Homo sapiens: one gene and its partners. The protein of the gene in region 1 interacts with the protein of each later gene in a biochemical or structural test. Each region holds a gene or a part of one and is shown on either strand. Other genes may lie near its edges.

Region 1 (5,226 bases):
GTCCCAGCTACATAGGAGGCTGAGGTGGGAGGATCACTTGAACCTGGGAGGTTGCAGTGAGCTGAGATTGCACCACTGCACTCCAGCCTGGGTGACAGAGTGAGACCCCATCTCACAAAAAAAAAAAGAAGTATTTCTTCCATATAATTTTAATAGAGTAAAATTCCATTAAATGGTAGAGAATAGTAAGCTTAACTAACACCTAGAATCTTCAACTTTGTTTGAGAAAATTGGGTGATTCATTTAAAATTAACCTGGAATCTAATCTTATTTCCTAGTTGTCAGTCGCTATTTCAGTTCTTACATAAAATGTGAAGGTAACCAAAGAGTCTAGTTAGTTCATCTAAAAAAAGAAGTGTTATCATATTCCTATTCAGTGCTAATTTTTTCACTGAGATCCTATGATATAACGTTTTGTAATCCATGCTATTTTTTTTAGTCCCACAGGATCACATGTTGAATGGTGTAAACAGCTTATAGCTGCTACAATTTCTAGTCAGATTTCAGGTTCAGTGACATCAGAAAATGTGTCCAGAGATTACAAGGTAAGCAACATTGAGTGTTTAATTCATTTTCAGTATGCTAAGTAGCCAAGAAGCTTTGCAGTTTTAATTCAAGTGAGCTGTTGGCCTTTTGATGCAACATGGCCATTTGCTCGAGAATAAGGATGAAAGGTTCTCTGTTGTTAGATCTGAAATGTAGAAGAGAAATTTTACCAGTATCCAGTACATGTAGTCATAGTTTTGTAATTGAAAGGAGAAGCTGTCTTTAGATGACAATGATTCTTTTAAAAATCAAGTTCCATTTTATAATAATAAATGCATATAGCTTCTTTGTTAGTATTGTGAGTTTCAGGAAATATCTTGATGTACAATACTTCCCTAACTTCACAATTTTTTAATTTATGTATTATCTGTGAGTATTCAGCATTAACATGTGATACTAGAATGTATAAAAACCCTTCCAGAATCTCAAAAGAGTATTGTATGGGCAGCCTCATTTTTCAGTCCTTACTGAAGTGAAAATCTCTTTTTGTTCATTTTAAAAGTTAGATTCCCTGCTTATTCTAAATTTAAGTGATAAGCTCCTTGTCAGCAGAGACTAGGGCAGTTTTACCACTGGCTTCCCAGGCACAATCCTGGAGCATAACAGTTGCTCAATAAATATTGAATCAATTAACAAATCAAAAAAATCGCTTGTTCCATCTTTGTTAAGGCTAAAGACTAACTTTGTTTTAATGTCAATAAACTATTAATAGGTATATTAAATGAAATCACATTTATATTTCAGTACTGATGTTTGCCTAAGTTGAGGTTTCTGTTTATTAGTGGTCATTTTTCCTGCTAGTAAGAGATGATTGATTTTTCACAAGTGTGTGTAAAATGCATTTGGTATCCCAGACTACCATTAGTTAATAGTCTCTCAATATCATGGTCCTTGCCAGACATCAAATCTTACAAATATCAAGAATTACAGTAAAGATCCTAATTAATTCTTAATAGGTACTCCTTGTTTAGGAGCTTTATCTTCAGTTCCTCTTTAGAGCTCATAGGGTAATAACAAGTGCAGAAACAGGCTCAGGAGGCCAATTAATTGAGATTTGGCTATGGTGCTGTCTCTTGCCTCATCCAAACTGGCAGATGCTGTTGATTATGCCTACCAAAGGAAGGCATAGCTGTGGATTAGCAGAAATTGGATAATCTGCCCAGCTAGAAGAGTGACAGTGTATTTCTTAATCATTTTTCCTGCTATGTGGTGTTCATGTTTGCCCATAAAAGAGCAGCTGGGGCTCCTGGACCTTAAAACCTGGTCGGGCAAACACACTGTCTCCAGGTGGGAGAAGCATTTGCTGCATCACTGATGCGTGAATGGCTGGTCACTGAGCAGCTGCGGATCGCATCAGTTCCAGTTGCCCTATTGCCTGCACCTTAGCTGAGAAACTGCCCGCTGAGTAGAGAGACTTAAGAACCCATTTTAGCAGAGAATAGCTCTCACACTTCGGGGTGATTTTCTTTATGGACAATTATGAGTTAACTGTAATGTTTTCATTAAGGTTGAATAGTTGTTAGTGTTGTGTGTGTCCTATAAAAGATTGAATGTCGACTGTGTGCATAGCTTTCTAACATTGCATGAATAGATCAGACTGAATCTGTACTTTAACATGAAGCAACTAAGTTTTTTCAATCTCAGTCTATTTACAAATTTTGTGTAGCTGAATTAGCTCATGTTGGAATGGTTGAACAGATGGTATTCAGAAAAAATAAGGCTTTCTTTCTTTTGGAAATTAAATTTTAAGTTCCTACATCAGATCATAGCTAAAGTCTTTGATGAATTATTGTAAGGGGGCATGTTTTATAATTGTCTTTGTTATATTTGCCCTGCAGCCAAATCTGAAAAGTTGGTGTTAAATTTATAACTCAGGGGTTGTTACACTTTCTTCAAGGAGAGTTTTTTTTTTTACATAATAAATACATAAAATATTTCTAAACCACAAGGATAATTGTACATGTTCCCTATAAAGTAGTTCTTAAAATCAGGGTAACCAAAATGGGCCTTTGGGACCCCTCTGGCATGGGAGCTATTGCATGGGGTTGACCCTGAAGAGCCAGATAAAGTTCCTTGAGGATTTAAGTTGCAGTCATCAGCTGATATTTGAAATTATCTGTTGTGTAAATGTCTTATTTGAAATACACACTTAATTTGGGGGCTAATTTATTATAGATTAAACTCAACATCAGTAATTAAATGGGAGCAGATGTTTATGTGGAGCAGAATGCTTGGCATCTTATTTGAAATGCTGATTGTCTTCTGAGTTGTAACAGGCTGTCGAGAATGGTTCTATGTCATCATCATCATCATCATCATCAACCCTCTAACACATACAGGCTCTGGGGTTTTGTAATGCTTTTTGACATGTCATCCATTTAAGCCTTAAAACAACCTAGTGAATCTGGGTGTGGTGGTCTGTAGTCTCAGCTACTTGGAAGGCTAAGATGGGAGGATCACTTGAGTCCAGGAGTTCAAGGCTGCAGTGTGCTGTGGTCACACTTGTGAAAAGCCAATGCACTCTAGCCTAGACAACATAGAGAGATCTTGCTTCTTTAAAAAAGTCCATTGAGGTAGCTATTACTACAATCATCATTTAATGGATGAGGAAACCGAGGCCTAGAGAGATGAAATGACTTGCTTAGGGTCATACAGTTAGACTTGGGATTTGAACTCAAGTCATCCTATTGAAAAGCTAGAGTGATTTTAAGATTTTGTCCCACCCCCATTCCCATCCACTGCTTTTCGATCTTTTTTTTTCTTCTTTTTCTTCTTCTTCTTTCTTTCTTTTTTTTTTTTTTATAGAGATGGGGTCTTACTACGTTTCCCAGGCTGGTCTTGAACTCCTGGGCTCGAGCGATCCTCCCATCTCGGCCTCCCAAAATGCTGGGATTAGAGGTGTGAGCCACCATACCCAGCCTCATCCACTGTTTTTCAAAATGTGACCCTTGGGTCTTCCCAAGACAGCATTCTCTGGAGCACCTGTAAAAATGCAGCTTCCCGGGCTCCATCCCAGATTTACTGAATCAGAGTGTCTGAGGGAGGGAAACAAGTGTCTCATATATTTCTTATGCATGATAAAATCTGAAAACCTAGGCTTCCTGAGTTTCTGTCTGTTGAAATTGGTGATGGGACCCTGCATTTCTGGTATATTACTAAGAATCTGAATAATTAGCAACTCAGATATTGGAGAATAATTATTTTATTATTTACTCATATCATAAATTGTCAGTCAGCCCAGGGTCAGCTCATCTAAAGTACAGTAAGAATATCGCTGGTATCACGTGACATGAGTTTAGATGGTATGTCCATGGACGTATTTTAGTAGCTATGTAATTATTTTCTTGTGTATTAGAAAAATCAGCACATCAGGCTTGTGATTTAGTAGATGTTATGGCTTAGAGCAGGCAAAGTATTAAAAAGGAATGGATTTTAAATCAATATAAAGATAAATACAAAATTAGTATGGGCAGTTGGCAGATACAGCAAGCCAAACTTGTTGAGGTGGTATGTGAAATGGCAAGTTTGGCAAGCATTGTCCCAGCTGAAAGAGTAGATAGCTATTATACTGAATTGTGTGGCAGCTAAATTAATAAATGCCTGATTTAATACCGAGTCATCCTGAAGATTGGCCTGTTAATTAAGACTATTACACAAAATGTAATAAAATATTTGTTTTGCTTGTCCCCCCTCCACTACCAACTCAATTGCTTTCATTTTTACTAGGCTAACAAATGGTAAAAAATTTCTCTTGAATTTGCCAGAAATTTTAAGAACAAAATTTGAATGTAATCTTCTGTAGATTAGATGAAATAATACAGTTACAAATGGAAACATTTTTAGGAACTATTAGTAGAAGTGACATCATTGATCACAGCTTCCATTGTTTGGAAAGTAGGACTAGGTTATGAAAAGAGAACATGATGGAGTAGTACAAACAATATTGGTTAGCTTGTGACCTTGTATAGTCTCTGAGGCTCAGTTTCCTTTTCTGGAAGGATAAAGGGGCTTGGATTAGATTATTCACCTCTAAATGCCTTTCTTGCTAGAACATTATTCAATTGTGTTCAAAAGAATTTGATCTGGGCCAGCTTTATGAAAATTAGGACACTATAGTTTTAATGTGATCATCTTCCTTCCTCTTGCTTCATCATTATCATCAGCTCTTCTCTGTTCTCCTTCCCTCACCCACACACACACAGTAGCTATATCTCTTCTCTAAACATTCTGAAGAAAAATGAGAAAATGGAGATGGCCTTATACTAAGTTTAATCATTGGATGGGATAGTACAGTAATTACATTTGGAGGGAAGTCGAAGGCAGAGTATAGGAAAGACTTCATTATGCTTGAGCTGGGTCTTGGTTAACATTTCTTAAATTGGGCCCTAGTCTATGAAAAGGGAAGCTTTAGCATGAACCTTCAAAATCTACTTCTGTAATCTATAGCCTGGCCTTGTGACTTATAAATCAGAGCTTGCAAACTCAGATGCCTTCATGGAACAGTTCACAAATCTAGGCAGACATGGAAGAGTGCTGTAGAGAACTGGAGAGTACAGAATGCCCACCTAACAGCAATTAAATTTTTTTAAAAACCATAGGCCTCCAGTTTTGTAACCACTGTAATAGATAGAAGAGTGCTATCCTATCATGGTTTTTGTGGGAAATAATTATTTCTTAAAA
Region 2 (4,194 bases), on another chromosome or scaffold:
CTGAGCTGCATTATAGGAATTCTGCTTCCACTAAATCAAAAACCCGCCAACCTTCTGAGTCTAAATATTTCCAGCTCTGGCTCTAGGCTCCTTTTCTCCAAAGTTGTGACTTTATTGCCTTCAACATAATTGCTTCACATAGAGTATATATTCTAGAAGCAAAAACCAGCTCCAAATACAAAACACTACAATACAGAAATAGCCATGCCAGTGATTTGGTGAAAATAGGCTGAAAAAGGAACAGCAAATGACTCCAGGAGACACCACTTGATAGAAATGGGAAGCTCAAGGAAGAATGATAATGTGGTTTGATCATCAAGATATGTGGAGTTTAAAAAGAAGAAGCTTAACGCAAGAGGATATGAAGAGACGCTTAAGTATAAAACTAAAATCAAGAAATAACCTTAGAACAAAGACAGTTTAGGAGGATGACTTAGGACCAGTGAGTACAAAGAAAGAACTTATAGAGAACTTAATTCATACTAGTCCTGTGAGTCAGAAAAGAGAAAAAGAAACCTGCAAATTATTACTAATAACCTATGCACCAAATATGAGGAACTATGGCTCAGACAGGACAAATGACCTTTTTCTGTGTCATGCAACTTGTGAGAGGGATTTCATCCTGGGTCTTTCAGACTTGGGAACCCATCTTCTTGCCACTAAATCACTCTGCCTGTCAGAAACAGAAAAGCAGCCACCAAAGCAGGATAATAGAAGGGTTCAGCCAGGGCCCACATCCCTGCTCTCTGCTCTCTGATTTACTGCGTTCTACAAGTTAATGAACCTCTTTGTACCACAGCTGCTTCCTCTATAAAATAATACCTATATCATAAAATGTTGGGAGCACAAACAGGTGTATAAAACACTTCAAATAGGCCAGGAGCAGTGGCTCACACTGTAATCCCAGCACTTTGGGAGCCACAGGCGTGTGGATCACCTGAGGTCAGGAGTTCGAGACCAGCCTGCCCAACATAGTGAAACCTCGTCTCTATTAAAAGTACAATAATTAGCTAGGTGTGTAATCCCAGCTACTTGGGAGACTGAGGCAGAAGAATCGCTTGAACCCAGGAGGCGGAGGTTGCAGTGAGCTGAGATCATGCCATTGCATTCCAGCTGGGGCAACAAGAGCGAAACTCAGTCTCAAAAAAATAATAATAATAAAAATAAAACACTTCAAATAGTGCCTGAGATATAGTAAAAGTTTTGTAAGTGCCAGATAGTGGTGTAATTATCATTATATTAGGTATAAGTCAGTGAAAGCCAGAAAGAATAGATTTGTTTGAGACAGGTTCTCACTCTCTTACCCAGGCTGGAATACAGTGGTGCAGTCATGGCTCACTGCAGCCTCAAACTCCTGGGCTCACATGATCCTCCTGCCTCAGCCTCCCTACAGGCACCTGCCACCACACCCAGCTGATTTTGTTTATTTTATTTATTTGTCTTTAGAAACTATGTTGCTCAGGCTGGTCTCAAACTCCTGGTTTCAAATGATCCTCCCACATCATGGCATGAGCCACCATGCCCAGTCCTGATTTCTGTTTATCAGCAACTTCCAGCACTAATTTTCACATTTTAACATACACATGAATCACCTGGGGATCTTGTTAAACACACAGATTCCGATTCAGTGGATCAAAGGTGGGACCTGGGATTCTGCCTTTCCAACAAGCCCCAGCTGAGCTAATGACGCTGGTCTACAGACCACATTCTGAGTAGCAAGGACTTAGCCGAAAGAAATAGCTTTGGTCTTGAACCAGAACTTAAGGAAATGGGGGAAGAGTGGAGCAGAGCAGGAATGAGAAAAGTCCAGAGAAACCAGGGACAAGCCAAATTTAGTAACATGAGACCTATGACTGCTGTGCTGAACAGTGCCCTCTGATTTCACTAGGGGGAAAGCCCCAGTGAAAGTGGTGCCATAATCTAAACAGATTACTGAGCTCTTGAAAAATAAAAACAATGAGAAAGGGATAATAAAGAAGTACAGACCGCGGGCGGTGGCTCACGCCTGTAATCCCAGCACTTTGGGAGCCCGAGGCAGGCGGATCACAAGGTCAAGAGATGGATACCATCCTGGCCAACATGGTGAAAACCCATCTCTACTAAAAATACAAAAATTAGCTGCGCGTGGTGGCACACGCCTGTAGTGCCAGCTCCTCGGGAGGCTGAGGCAGGAGAATCACTTGAACCCAGGAGGCAGAGGTTGCAGTGAGCCGAGATCGCATCACTGCACTCCAGCCTGGTGACAGAGCGAGACTCCGTCTCAAAAAAAAAAAAAAAAAAGAAGTACAACAGAAAAGCCCAGGAGAATGATATTTGTAGGACAAGCCACCTCTCTCAGTACTTAGTATTAAATGTTTTGAAACAACAGTGAAATCAGCTGGAGAACCTTCTTTTGGAAGCTGTCCTAGCCTTTGCTTTATTACACAGGTCTTAGCGCTGGCCTCTGATATTGTCATTCAGAGTTCAAAGAAAAATGTAGGTTTTGTGAGGTTTTGGTGTAGTTTTTTTTTGCTTGTTTGTTTGTTTGAGACAGGGTCTCACTCTGTTGCACAGGCTGGAGTGCAGTGGCATGAGCACAGCTCATTACAGCCCAGACTCAGGTGATCCTCCCATCTCGACCTCCCCAAGTAACTGGGACCACAGGTGCAAACCACCACACCTGGCTAATTTTTGTTTTTTGTTTTTTGTTTTTTTAAATGGGGTCTCGCTTTCTTGCCCAGGCTGGAGTACAGGGGCGTGATCCCAGCTCACTGCAACCTCTGCTGCCCAGGTTCAAGCGATTCTCTGACCTCAGCCTCCCAAGTAGCTGGGATTACAGGCATGCGACACCACACCCAGCTAATTTTTATATTTTTTAAGTAGGGATGGTGTTTCACCAAGTTTGCCAGGCTGGTCTCAAAATCCTGACCTCAAGTGATCTGCCCACTTTGGCCTCCCAAAGTACTGGGATTACAGGCGTGAGTCACGGCACCTGGCCTAATTTTTATTTTTTGTAGAGACAGGGTTTCACCGTGTTCCCCAGGCTGGTCTCGAACTCTCAGGCTCAAGCAATCCTCCCACCTCAGCCTCCCAAAGTGCTAGGATTACAGGGCTGAGCCAACATGCCCAGCCGAAAAATGTGTTTTAAAATACCTAAAATATGGCCAGGCGTGGTGGCTCATGCCTGTAATCCCAGTACTGTGGGAGGCCGAGGTGGGTGGATCACTTGAGGTCAGGAGTTCGAGACCAGCCTGGCCAACATGGTGAAACCCTGTCTCTACTAAAAATACAACAATTAACCAAGCGTGGTGGCGGGTGCCTGTAATCCCAGCTACTCGGGAGGCTGAGGCAGGAGAATTGCTTGAACCTGAGAGGTGGAGGTTGCAGTGAGCCAAGATTGCACCACTGCACTGCAGCCTGGGCAACGAGTGAGACTCCATCTCAAAAGAAAAAAAAACTATTAATGAATAATTAATAGTTACTAATACCTAATAGGTGTTAATCACTTAATAGTTATTAAGTAATAACTATTAATGTTGAAAGGGTAGATTTGGGAATTCCTAGCCAAATTAATTTAAACTTATGCTATTAACTCATAACATGAGCTCTTCTTAGACTATAGAGAACCACCTCCCTCCCAAAATACAAAAAAAGCCTTTATAAGTACCCAAGTCTGAATCAGCACTGTCCTGTAGACAATAATGCAAGCCACATACATAATTTTAAATTTTCTTGTAGCCACATTTTTAAAAATTTTTAAATAGATGAATTTAATTTAATAATATATCTTATTTAATACAATATATCCAAATATTATCATTTAACGTGATATTTTTAAAATAGTTATTTTACACTCTGTTTCCTATGTCTTTGAAATCCACTTGAAATAACACACCCCCCCAATATACTACTATATAATGATAATATTTTTTTTTTTGAGGTGGAGTCTTGCTCTGTCGCCCAGACTGGAGTACAGTGGCGTGATCTCAGCTCACTGCAACCTCTGCCTCCCATGTTCAAGCGATTCTCCTGCCTCAGCCTCCCAAGTAACTGCAATTACAGGCGCACCCACTAATTTTTGTATTTTTAGTAGAGACGGGGTTTCAGTATGTTGGCCATGCTGGTCTCAAACTCCTGACCTCAGGTGATCCACCCACCCTGGCCTTCCAAAGTGCTGGGATTACAGGCATGAGCCACTGCACCTGGCCTGGGTTT
Region 3 (5,226 bases), on another chromosome or scaffold:
GTTCACAAGATGCCTCCCCAGAGCCACTTTCCTATCTAAAAGAGCACACTCTCCCTCCTACCACCTGCCATGCTCCATCCTCCTCCCTTCTTCGTTGTTTTTTTGTTTTTGTTTTTTGTTTTTTTTTTTTGCACAAATCACTACCTGGCATTCTTTTATATTTATGTCTTTGTCTGTCTTTGCCGCCTCCTTCTAGAATGTAATCTCCACATGAAAAGGACTTTGTTTCATTCGCAGCATAGATGGGGGCCTAGAATAGTGCCTGGCACCTGGTAGATGTTTCACAGCATTCCCTAGCTGAGGCTGGGAGGGCCAGCAGGACTCAGCTGGAAGTCACGTGGGGCCCCTTTAACAGGCTGAAGGGAAAACAGCAGCAGTGGGAGGCAGTGATGGTTCTGGCAGAGGTCTGGGGGAAACTGAATGCCACTGGGGTGTTCCCATGTGAGACCCCATTCAGACACAATTGGCCTCCCGCAACTGCCCACTTCCCTCGCCACCCTCCATCCCTGCCCAGTCTAGCCCAGTAGTTACCACAACCGATCCCGGCAGATGTAGTGTCATCGGGGCCTCTCCAGCCAACAGGATGAACTCTGGCCTGGAAAACTGGAGGAAAACAGTCACATATGGTAGAGAAGACAACAGATTCCAGGCTTTGGGTCTGGGCTTCCCCCATGATGCACCTCTGCAGCCCCCACCAGCATACATTCCCCAGAGCCAGCAGAAAACAGGCCAAGATGGGGCTGACCTGGGCTGAGGCCCCAGCTGAATGGTACATCTTGGAGCAGAAGTCTTACAGGTGGGTATAGGGTATCAGCAACATTCTGGCTCTTAAGTTGGGTACAGGGGTGTTCGGGGTGAATTATAAGTTTCATAATTTACACAGAACTCCATCTTTTGTATGTATCAAAAGTATAAAATGTATAATATAAATATAAATGCAATAAAAATACTTGAAAAAACAAAAATACTTTTAGATTTAGATGAGCTGAAATGTTTTCTAGCTCTAGATGTTGAATCAATAGCTTAGTGGGCACCTCTTGTTCTCAGTGTGTTTGTATTACACTTGACCCAGAAAACACTGCAATACCCATCACTAGCTAGACCCAGCTATCCCCCTGTGGGGTGCATATTCTCAACCCATTTTACAGGTGAGGAAGTTGAGGCTCCTCACCTTTAAAAAAAAAAAAAAAAGCTTAAGAAGCTCACCTGAGTCATATAACCAGCAAGAGATAGGGTTGGGTAGGGCTTCTATAGTGCCCCCAAGGGTACCTAGCAGGACTCTTGTCCCAAGAGGCCAAAATTCCAGCCCAGAAGTGACTTGTGTCCTGCAAGAGTTCCCAATAGAAGTATCTCTAGTGAGTGATCAGGAAGAAAAGCCAAAGGAGGTGGACAAAGCCTCTCAGAAGCCCTCTTCACGCCCTCCACCAAGTTCATGGAGGCCAGAGAAGGGCCAAGGAGGACAGTGCGGGCCAGGCCAGCGTATGGGAACCATAGGCCAAACAGGAAGAGGGACATCCTGAGGCTATTTGGAGCTCAGCTCAGTCAAGGGACCTTAACTAACTTTGACAGACAGACAGGCACATTCCGCCTAACCCTATTACCCTCTTAGGGTTAGCCAGCTGGAAGGATAACTCTCTCCTCCCTATAGAAGCCCTCCCTGCGGCCCTGGATCTATGCTCCCACCTTTCACCTGTGCAGAAGGCCCCTTCCAAACACATTCTGCCTTGTCAGTTCTCGAATCATGTAGCACGCTCTGCCACCACCCTGCGCACCGGTGGCTTCCTCTAGGGTGGGACCCAGCATCTTTAACCCTACATCTTATACAGCGTCCCCCATAGAGCCTTCCCCAGTGAGGCTACTCAGTGAATGCCTATGCCCTAAGTTGCAAATTTCAGGTTTATGTTAGTCCAATCCTATAAACCTCAGCCCAGGGAAGTTGTCCCCTAGAAGACCCTGCCCATTTTCAGCCACCGTGCCAGCCACCCACAGCTCCCTGCTCAAGCCTCCTTGAGGAGTGTCCTTCAGCCTTATTTTGCTTACCTTGCTCCTTCTTTGCAGAAAACCCCTCTGAGAAGGAGTTGTTGGCCATGAGCTGTCTGCTGCCGAGTGCACAGATCCAGAGCTGAGCCTCCGGCCCGCCTGCTGGTCCTGGGGATCTGCTCCTGGAAGAGCGCTGGCCAGGGGTTGAGAAGGGGTGAAGCACTTAGCAATGGCAAGGGCTTCCATGGCATGAAAGACCACCCGCACAGGGGCTCAGTTGGGCAGGGTGCACCCACTGATGCATGTCACCTTCTCCCCCACCTATGGGGGAGTTATATCCATTTTTCAAGTGGGGGAAGCTGAGGCCTGGAGAAGCCAGGCTGCACAGCCACTGGGGTGGGGTGGGGTTGGAGGTACAAGGCACAGTCGACTTCTCCACCCCATGGCTTTACCTCTCTGTTTGTGGTGCCAGGACCCCAGGTCTAGAGCAACCACCCAGCAGGTCATGGGACTGCAGCAGTTCTGGCTTCTTTAGAATTTGATATGTTGTTCAAAATATTTTGACAATAAAATATATTGTTTAAGGAATCAGGGGGTAAAAATTGTTTTCATTGGGAAAATAAAGTTTTAAATGGCAGGAAAAAGTATTGCAAGATAAACTCTACGATATCCAATCAGGGCGTCAGCTGTGGATTTGACATCAACTATGACAAGACACTGTTACAGCCCTCAACAGGTCACCATGTGAATAAATAAATCACCCAAACTTCAAAATAAACACCGTTCCAGGTCCAGGAAGATATGAGCCCATCTAGGTTTTGATCTGATTCAAGCATCCTAAGTTAGACAATTGCAAAAATGTCCACAGTTCTTCTCCCTGATCTGCACCCTTTGCAATCCGACTTTGCAGCCTCCTGCCATCAAGAGATGGAGTCTATTTCTTACTCCTTGAAATGGGGCTGGCCTTTAGGCCTGATATGGCCAACAGAATGAAGTGGAAATGATGGAAGACCAGTTCTGAAGGCTTTATGCACCTTGCCGTCCTCTCTCCTCTCTCTCCTCTTTCTCTCTGTCTCTCTGTCTCTCTCTCTCTCTCTCAGTTCCTCTCTGTCAGTTCTGCCATTGTCACGAGAACAATCCTAGGCTGACCTGCTGGTGGAGGAGAGCCAGAGCTTCCCAGACAATGGCCATTCACCCCGCAGGAGAAGCTGGATAGCCGAGCCGAAGACAGTCAAAAAGGCAGGAAGGCTTTCAGCAGAGTCTAGAAGACCTCCCAGCTGAGCACAGCCTAAATGACCAACTCACAGAATCATGAGCTAAATTCATAATTGTTGCTTTTAGCCACTGTGTTTTGTGGTTGCTTGTTATGCAGCATGGTATGGCAATGGATAATGGCAACAATATTGAGGCATGTTGTTGCTCCGCCACTCGGCCTGAGTATGGTTCCCAGAGGAAACAGGATGCCCTGACAGCACAGCTGCCACCAGGCCCCTCATTATCTTGGCTTCGGATCTGCTTAAATGTGGCTTCTTCATCTGTTAATGGAATAGCATTGGCATTTTCTGGAGGAGCAAGAGGCTTCTTACTAATAATCAGTAAAGAAATAAGGTACCATAGCCCCCACACCTATGTCTCACATCAAGTTCACAGCACCCTTTAGGCCTTGCTGCTTACCGGTTAACAAGGAGGCTGCAGTGACTGTGTGTCAAGGTGCTCCAATGGGGCTCTGGTGAGCTCTGGGTCTCCGTGCTTCTTTCTGAAACTAATCAAGCAGCATGGTAGAGGGTATGGGCAGAAGCCAAGATCACGGCTTTCTTAAATCAGGCATCTCAGAGCATGAATGGCATCATGACTTACTAGCTGTGTGACCTTGGTGAAATTCCTTAGCCTCTCTGAATCTGTTTCCTCATGTAGAAAACAGAAATGACAGTTACAGAGGGTTGGAGGGAGGGTTACAAGGGAAGATAAAGCCTAATGGCAAAGTGCACTTTGTTTTAGAGACAACAAACAATAACATTAATTTTTTTAAAAAAAGCTCAGATTTAGTTGAAAAGTAGAGAACAGTAGATTTGAAGATTATTCCAAAAACCACTCTTTTAACACACCCAGAACAATAACTGAAAAAAAAATCAAGTTTTTCTTTTCTTGTTGTTTGTTTCAATTTGGATTTTCTCAACTTGGACAGTTAGAACTCATTTTTAAAGTTTTCATTTGATATAAATAACTGTGTTGTGTCCCCAAATAAGACTTTCCTGGGAACACAGGTGAGTCCTAAGCTCAGCCCCTTCTCTTCAGGGGCTTCCTGAAAGAGTGGCACTTACATAGGCTTTCTCTGCCATCACAATGTGGATGTGTAGCCCATACAGGGCAGGAAAAAATAGAATGGGTACCATCAGCCCACGCAGGGACTGCTTAGGGCACGTACCCACCTCTGCAAGGATGCAGACACTCCGGGGCCTGTGCCGCTGGGCTCTCGCTGCTTGTCCCACGCAGCCTCTTCCTGAGCAGGTAGCTTCTGTTCTGCTGCACAGAGGAGCTTTCCTCCACAACTCTTTTCTCCACCTGGGGGTCAAGTGCATCACACATCCACATCCCAAGATAAGGAGGGGGCGTTTTTATAGATACATGCAAACTGGCTGTCAGACTGAATCAATGTGGAATTGTCTGCCCTATACGGTGACCTAAAGATGTGTTCTCTGGCACCCAGAATGTGCTCTGTGCCCACCCCCTGCATGCACCCTGAAGGCACTTCACTCCCCACTCCAGACCTGCACACTCACACACATCTGTGCCTTTGCTCATGCATTCCCTCCATGGCTACAGCCTCCCCAGAAGCTCCTCTGTGCCCACAAGACCCAGAGCTGTGTGCTTTCTACTTCTAAGCCTCTCTACCTCTGCCGTCTGATCACCTTCCCTTATCACTGCACTCACACCTGGCTCTGTTGCATCATGTTCCATGAGTGTGCTGCTTGTCTGTCTCCCCCAACATCTCTGTGTGCTTTATGCACCACCGTAGCACACCTAATGCAGTGCCCAATGAATGTTGAATACGTGACTGACATCTACCTTGCAGATCCCTGACGGAAATGTTGCAGGTCAGTACACTGTCTATCCAAGGACAATGGCACACCAGTGGATGGTAGACCTCAGTATCTTTCAAATAAATATAGTCCATTTCCCCCACCAAATCCTCTGGCTCAATTCATAGGAGCCACATGTTCCTATGCCAAGAGAGAAGGGGTCCAA
Region 4 (5,226 bases), about 110 Mb from region 1:
ATCACATTAAGCTCTGATTACACACTGGGGCTATTACAGTTTCAGCTTTAGGGGCACAGATTATTTTCTGAGCCATAGCTTTATTTTCATGAGAAATAAATTCTACAGCTTTTCTTAGGTTTGACTGAATTACAGATTTTTCTGAATGTTAAGAAAAAATGAGGCTTTACATTGTACTACTATGGATAAGGTGAACCATCTTAAGGATTCCCAGGGTTACCTCTTCTAGGGTGGTACAGTGAAAGGAAGTGGGGATTTACTGTAAAAGAATAAAAATTTAAAAATCAACACAGTTCAACTTCACACCTCACTTTCAATTGGCTGTAAAGCCTTAATCGAGTCACAATTATGTTAAGCCTTGGTTTCTCCATCTACAAAACTAGATACTGATCTCCAGCTCATAGGGTTACAAGGATTAGGTAAGGAGTCATAACGCCTGGCAAAATATACAGCACTATAAGAACATAATCTATTACTATTTTATGAGAAGCTAGGTTATTAATTTCTTTCTAGTTTAATGTCTTTACCATCATCCTCTAGCTTTAAAGTTGGACCACAACATCTTATCATATAGTATTATTAGACGTGCTCAATTGGGCCTCAGTTGTCTGAAATAAGATGGCATAAAGTATTAGACCTGTACTAAAAGAGCTGGACATGTGTTAGGTGGTTTTCCTATGGTCCACATGTAGTTTGGCAGAAGTGAGAGGATTCTAAAAAATGCCACAAGGCCCTTCTGTTATGGACAGTTTTGGATGTACAATGAGGAAGGAATTTCATCCTCACCATCTTGTCTTCTGAATTGTATTCTTAGCTCCTGACCCTGTGCTTGACATATAATAAGGGCTTAATACAAGTTTGTTGGATTAAATTGTCTGTAAGATACAGTAGAGGGGTCATCTAAGAAGCTGGAGTGGGAAAGGGGGATGGAGAAAAATGTCCTAAGGAGAGAGCCTCCCTGGAGCAGTGAGGCTCTGCCTGAAAGCAAGTTGTTCATGGTCACGGGTATCCTGAAGGCAGGATGAAGGCCTTGTCCAGCTGAGGAGAGACTGGGCTGAGGGCAGAGAAGCCCGAGAGTGAAGCCCAGTCGGTGCAGACTGCGGGCATTCTCAGCTGTACTGTGGTATGCAATGGTCATTGTGAGACCAGGACTGGCATGAGGCTGGCCTGCGCAGGAGGGCCTGGGACCAGTGTAGTCAACCAGACCAACAGGAGGAGCAGGACCTGGGCAATCCCTATCCCCAGGGCCGCTGGCCCAAAGAGACTCAGGCAGCCAGGATGCCTATGGCCGGCCCTCAGGGCTAGGTGGATCTGAGAGATCACAGTTCTGAGAGGCAGGGACCCAGGAAGCAGGAGAGAAGAGTGCAGGTGAGCTCATCCAGCACTCAGGGGAGCAGAGGAGAGTGCCCAGCCGGGGTGAGGAGGTGCTTTGGGGCCAAGTGCAATGGGTAAAAGTAACTGCTGTGGGTGTCCTGAGGAGGCTGAGAGAAGTGTCTCCCACTCAGCAGTGCAGAGCAATGCATGGCTGTGCAAGGGCAAGGAGAAAGGGAGAGCTGGACGCTATGGGTGGAGCAGCAGCAGCAGCGGCAGCAGCAGCAGTGGCGGTGGCGGCGGCAGCAGCGGAGGCAGGTAAGGCAGAAAGCCCTCGAAAGTGGACTTAGGTAATGCAGAGGGAGTCTGAGGAGCCCTGCAGCCAGCATACTGCTAGAGACATTACTACCAGCAGAAAACGACGTTCAGGTGAAGACCAGTGTGGAACCCAAGGAGAGGATGTCGAAGACCAGGACCAGGATTGAGACTTTGCCTCTAGCCACCCCTGGCCAGAAGATTTTTCCAATCCCTAGTAAGGAGGGATTAGTAGTTAAACAAAAATCAATCTGTGGTACACATCATATATTTAGTTCTATATAGGTCCAAGTTAATTGTTAAGTAAACGGCAGTGTTCACCCTACTGCTGCTTTCCTCCCTAGCCCCTTGAACAGATCCTTTTGTGGTTTCCAAAGTTCCAAGTTCAAGAACCCCATCAGGTGTTGTAAACGGAAATGGGTGAACCCACTGGCCACGAATTAGGATCCTGGAGCCCAGAAACTGAGCTGTCAGGTCCCAGGTCACACAGACTCTGGCTATATAGGTTCTGTCCTTGCTTTAGGGATGGTTAGGGGACCAAGTCTCATACAGTGGCCCTTGAACAGGGATTCGCCCTGCCTAAGATAGCCAGGTAAGCCTCCTGATGAAACACAGCCTGCTTGAGGGAAGCTGGTCTACTATTTCAGCAGGTAGCATACTGGTTCTATTTCTAAGGGTTAAAGGAGATTTGGTACAGATCAGTCCTAGAAATGGCAGACCCAGGAGTCACATGGCACCCACAAGCCTCTCCTATAACCCACCTTGATGTCTACAACTCCCAAATCCTTCCTACTATACTTTGCCTCCCATATCTACTTGGTTTGTACTCAGAGATGAAAAAACAGCTTGTCAGCATTTTTGATGTAAAGCCTTCAGCTTTCTCTTTTTCAAGTTTAATAATTCCTACTGCAAGACATATCTAGAAACCATTTCATCATCTCTGTGTCTGGCTCTCTTTTGAGTCCTCTTCCAAGTCTTTATCTCTCTCCTAGTTTTTGCTCAGGGTCAGGCATTGTGCTCAGGTAAGGAAATGGCAGAGGCTGAGAGCCACCATGGGTTTCCATCCCTGCTGTCTCTGACATCTGGGCTCACTCATGCTTGCTTTCATAAAGCTAGTGCTGTGTTTCAGACCCAGGCCCCAGGATCAGTTTCTCACTGGAGATTAACATAATGTGCTGGTAGAGGCTCTGATGGTCCAGCGTGAGCTGTACCCAGAGAGGGAAGGTGGCTGTTGTGATAACAAAGTGCCAGAGCCTCATCCTGAGGTCAGATGATCGTAGGATTTCTGGCAGGCGTAGACACAATCAGGAACCTTACTGAGCTTCTGCATATAATAAACCTCTTAAGAGAATAATCTCTGCTTCTTAAATACATGGTGTGTGCACTGAGTCCAACGATTAGTCAGCTGGCATTCTAGACTGTGAACCCCCAACGCCTCCATTACTGATACTTTTCTGTGGTTTATGAAATTATTATGTGACCTGTGACTTTCTGATGGCATTTTTGATTTCAGAATCTGTGCTTATTGGCATGCAGGCAGGATGTCAGACATTCGGGGAGGCTGGGCATTACCTGAGGCTCCACGTCCAGTATTGCAATCAGCCCCTGCTCGTGGATCTTCCGGATGGTCTCCAGTTTTGTCCCATACATCGCATCCTCGTGGCTGCCGTACTCCAAGTACTCGTTATTAGAGATGTCTTGCATCATTTGGTCATGAGATACAAAGTAATAATTCTTTCCATTTTCTTCGTCTTTCTTTGGAGGTCTGGTTGTATCTGCAAAGTCGCATGGCACAAGAGGTTTAAAAGGCTGAGCTGATGAGCTTACTACACTCCCAACAGATTTACTCAAACCCAGTCTCTTCCTAAAAGCTGTGGATTCTTTAGCGTATATCTCATATCCCCTGTTCTCACCCCCAGTGGCTTTGCAGAACTAAATTCTAGAAACCATATTTATCTGTGTGCATCACACCATAGTAGCCAGTGAATTGTCTGGTTTGGTGAAACTTTCAGTGTTCAGGTGAGATGTATTTTATCCCTTCATGAACCACCACAGGAGGAAGACGTGAAATGACCCAAGATTAATATAACTCACTGTATGCCTTAATGCAGTTGGGTCTTGTGTAGAAGGAAAAAAGGAGAATAAAAAAATGGAAAACTGCATATGGTTAAATTTAAATAAGCCAAAATTAAATAAAATTCAAATTTTAGTTTCTCAGTCTCACTAGTGGCATTTCAAGGATTCAATAACCACGTATGGTTAGTGGCCACTGTACTGGACTGCACAGACATCAAGTACTGTCATTGTCACAGAAAGTTCTATTGAAAAGTGATGTTCTATAACATCTTGCAAAAGGAGAATGTTAGGATACAGCAAAAGACACGTTACACTGAAAACACAATGACTGTGGCCAGACATACCCATAATTATTATGGAAGACCTAAATCAGGAGGTGACAAACTGGCTTATGGGCCAAACATGGTCTACTGTCTTTTTTTATTTTTATTTTTTTATTTTGGAGACAGAGTCCCACTCTGTAGCCCAGGCTGGAGTGCAGTGGTGCGATCTCAGCTCACTGCAACTTCCACCTCCTGGGTTCAAGAGATTCTTGTGCCCTCAGCCTCCTGAGCAGCTGGGATTATAGGCGTGTACCACCATGCCCAGCTATTTTTTGTATTTCCAACAGAGACGGGGTTTCACCATGTTGGCCAGACTGGTCTCAAACTCCTGACCTCAGGTGATCTGCCCGCCTCAGTCTCCCAAAGTGCTGGGATTACAGGTGTGAGCCACTGCACCTGGCCACCTACTGTCTGTTTTTGTAAACAAAGTTTTACTGGAACACAGCCATGTGCTTTTGTTTACATATTGCCTATGGTTGTTTTCATGAGACAACAGCAGAGCTAAGTGCTTGTGATAGACTGTATGGCCTTAAAGCCTCAAATGTGTACTATCTGGTCCTTTACAGAAAAGGCTTGCCCACCCCTCACCTAAGTGAGTGTAACTGAAGTATATGCCAATAAGCTCTAGTTCTGTGGATACTAATAGGACCAGTATCCTGCAAAACACACTTTAGGAAATGTTTTTCTAGATGAGCCAGGAACACTGGTTTTAATATTCTCTCTCCCTACCCCCCTTTCTTTTCTCCCTTCCTTCCCTTTTTTTCCCTCTCTCTCTCAATTTCTTTGCTTCCTTCTTTCTTTGAGAAAGAACAAATTTATGCTACTCTCTTCTGTATACATGAGCCTAAACTAATGGGGAATCCCCCTTTCCTGCTAGCCTGTTTGTTAGAACATAAAGTGCTCGTGGTCATCAAAATGTGGACATTTTAAGAGAAGCCCTTTCTCTAGGCACATCAAAAGCTGAAGAACCGGCGTTACTATTTATTTATTTATTGAGACAGGGTCTCACTCTGTTGCCCAGGCTGGAGTGCAGTAGCAAGATCTCAGCTCACTGCAACTTCCAGCTCCCGGGTTCCAAGCGATTTTCATGCCTCAGCCACCCTAATAGCTGGGACTACAGGTGTGTGCCACCATGCCCGGCTAACTTTTGTATTTTTAGTAGAGATGGGGTTTCACCACATTGGCCAGGCTGGTCTCAAAC

Evidence for each region.
Region 2: the proteins of MTMR1 (region 1) and HTRA4 interact in a test that uses a peptide from one of them, tested with the Homo sapiens proteins (one large-scale study listed by IntAct).
Region 3: the proteins of MTMR1 (region 1) and FRMPD2 interact in a test that uses a peptide from one of them, tested with the Homo sapiens proteins (one large-scale study listed by IntAct).
Region 4: the proteins of MTMR1 (region 1) and CASK interact in a test that uses a peptide from one of them, tested with the Homo sapiens proteins (one large-scale study listed by IntAct).

The regions. Positions count from the first base shown.
Region 1 is NC_000023.11:150,698,756-150,703,981, forward strand, and holds part of MTMR1 (phosphatidylinositol-3-phosphate phosphatase MTMR1), read left to right. Parts: intron 1-439; coding exon 440-545; intron 546-5,226. UniProt on the Homo sapiens protein: Lipid phosphatase that specifically dephosphorylates the D-3 position of phosphatidylinositol 3-phosphate, generating phosphatidylinositol. Could also dephosphorylate phosphatidylinositol 3,5-bisphosphate to produce phosphatidylinositol 5-phosphate.
Region 2 is NC_000008.11:38,983,248-38,987,441, reverse strand, and holds part of HTRA4 (serine protease HTRA4 precursor), read right to left. Parts: intron 1-4,194. UniProt on the Homo sapiens protein: Serine protease.
Region 3 is NC_000010.11:48,235,951-48,241,176, forward strand, and holds part of FRMPD2 (FERM and PDZ domain-containing protein 2), read right to left. Parts: intron 4,543-5,226; coding exon 4,410-4,542; intron 3,743-4,409; coding exon 3,655-3,742; intron 2,174-3,654; coding exon 2,041-2,173; intron 604-2,040; coding exon 532-603; intron 1-531.
Region 4 is NC_000023.11:41,527,809-41,533,034, forward strand, and holds part of CASK (peripheral plasma membrane protein CASK), read right to left. Parts: intron 3,402-5,226; coding exon 3,199-3,401; intron 1-3,198. UniProt on the Homo sapiens protein: Multidomain scaffolding Mg(2+)-independent protein kinase that catalyzes the phosphotransfer from ATP to proteins such as NRXN1, and plays a role in synaptic transmembrane protein anchoring and ion channel trafficking.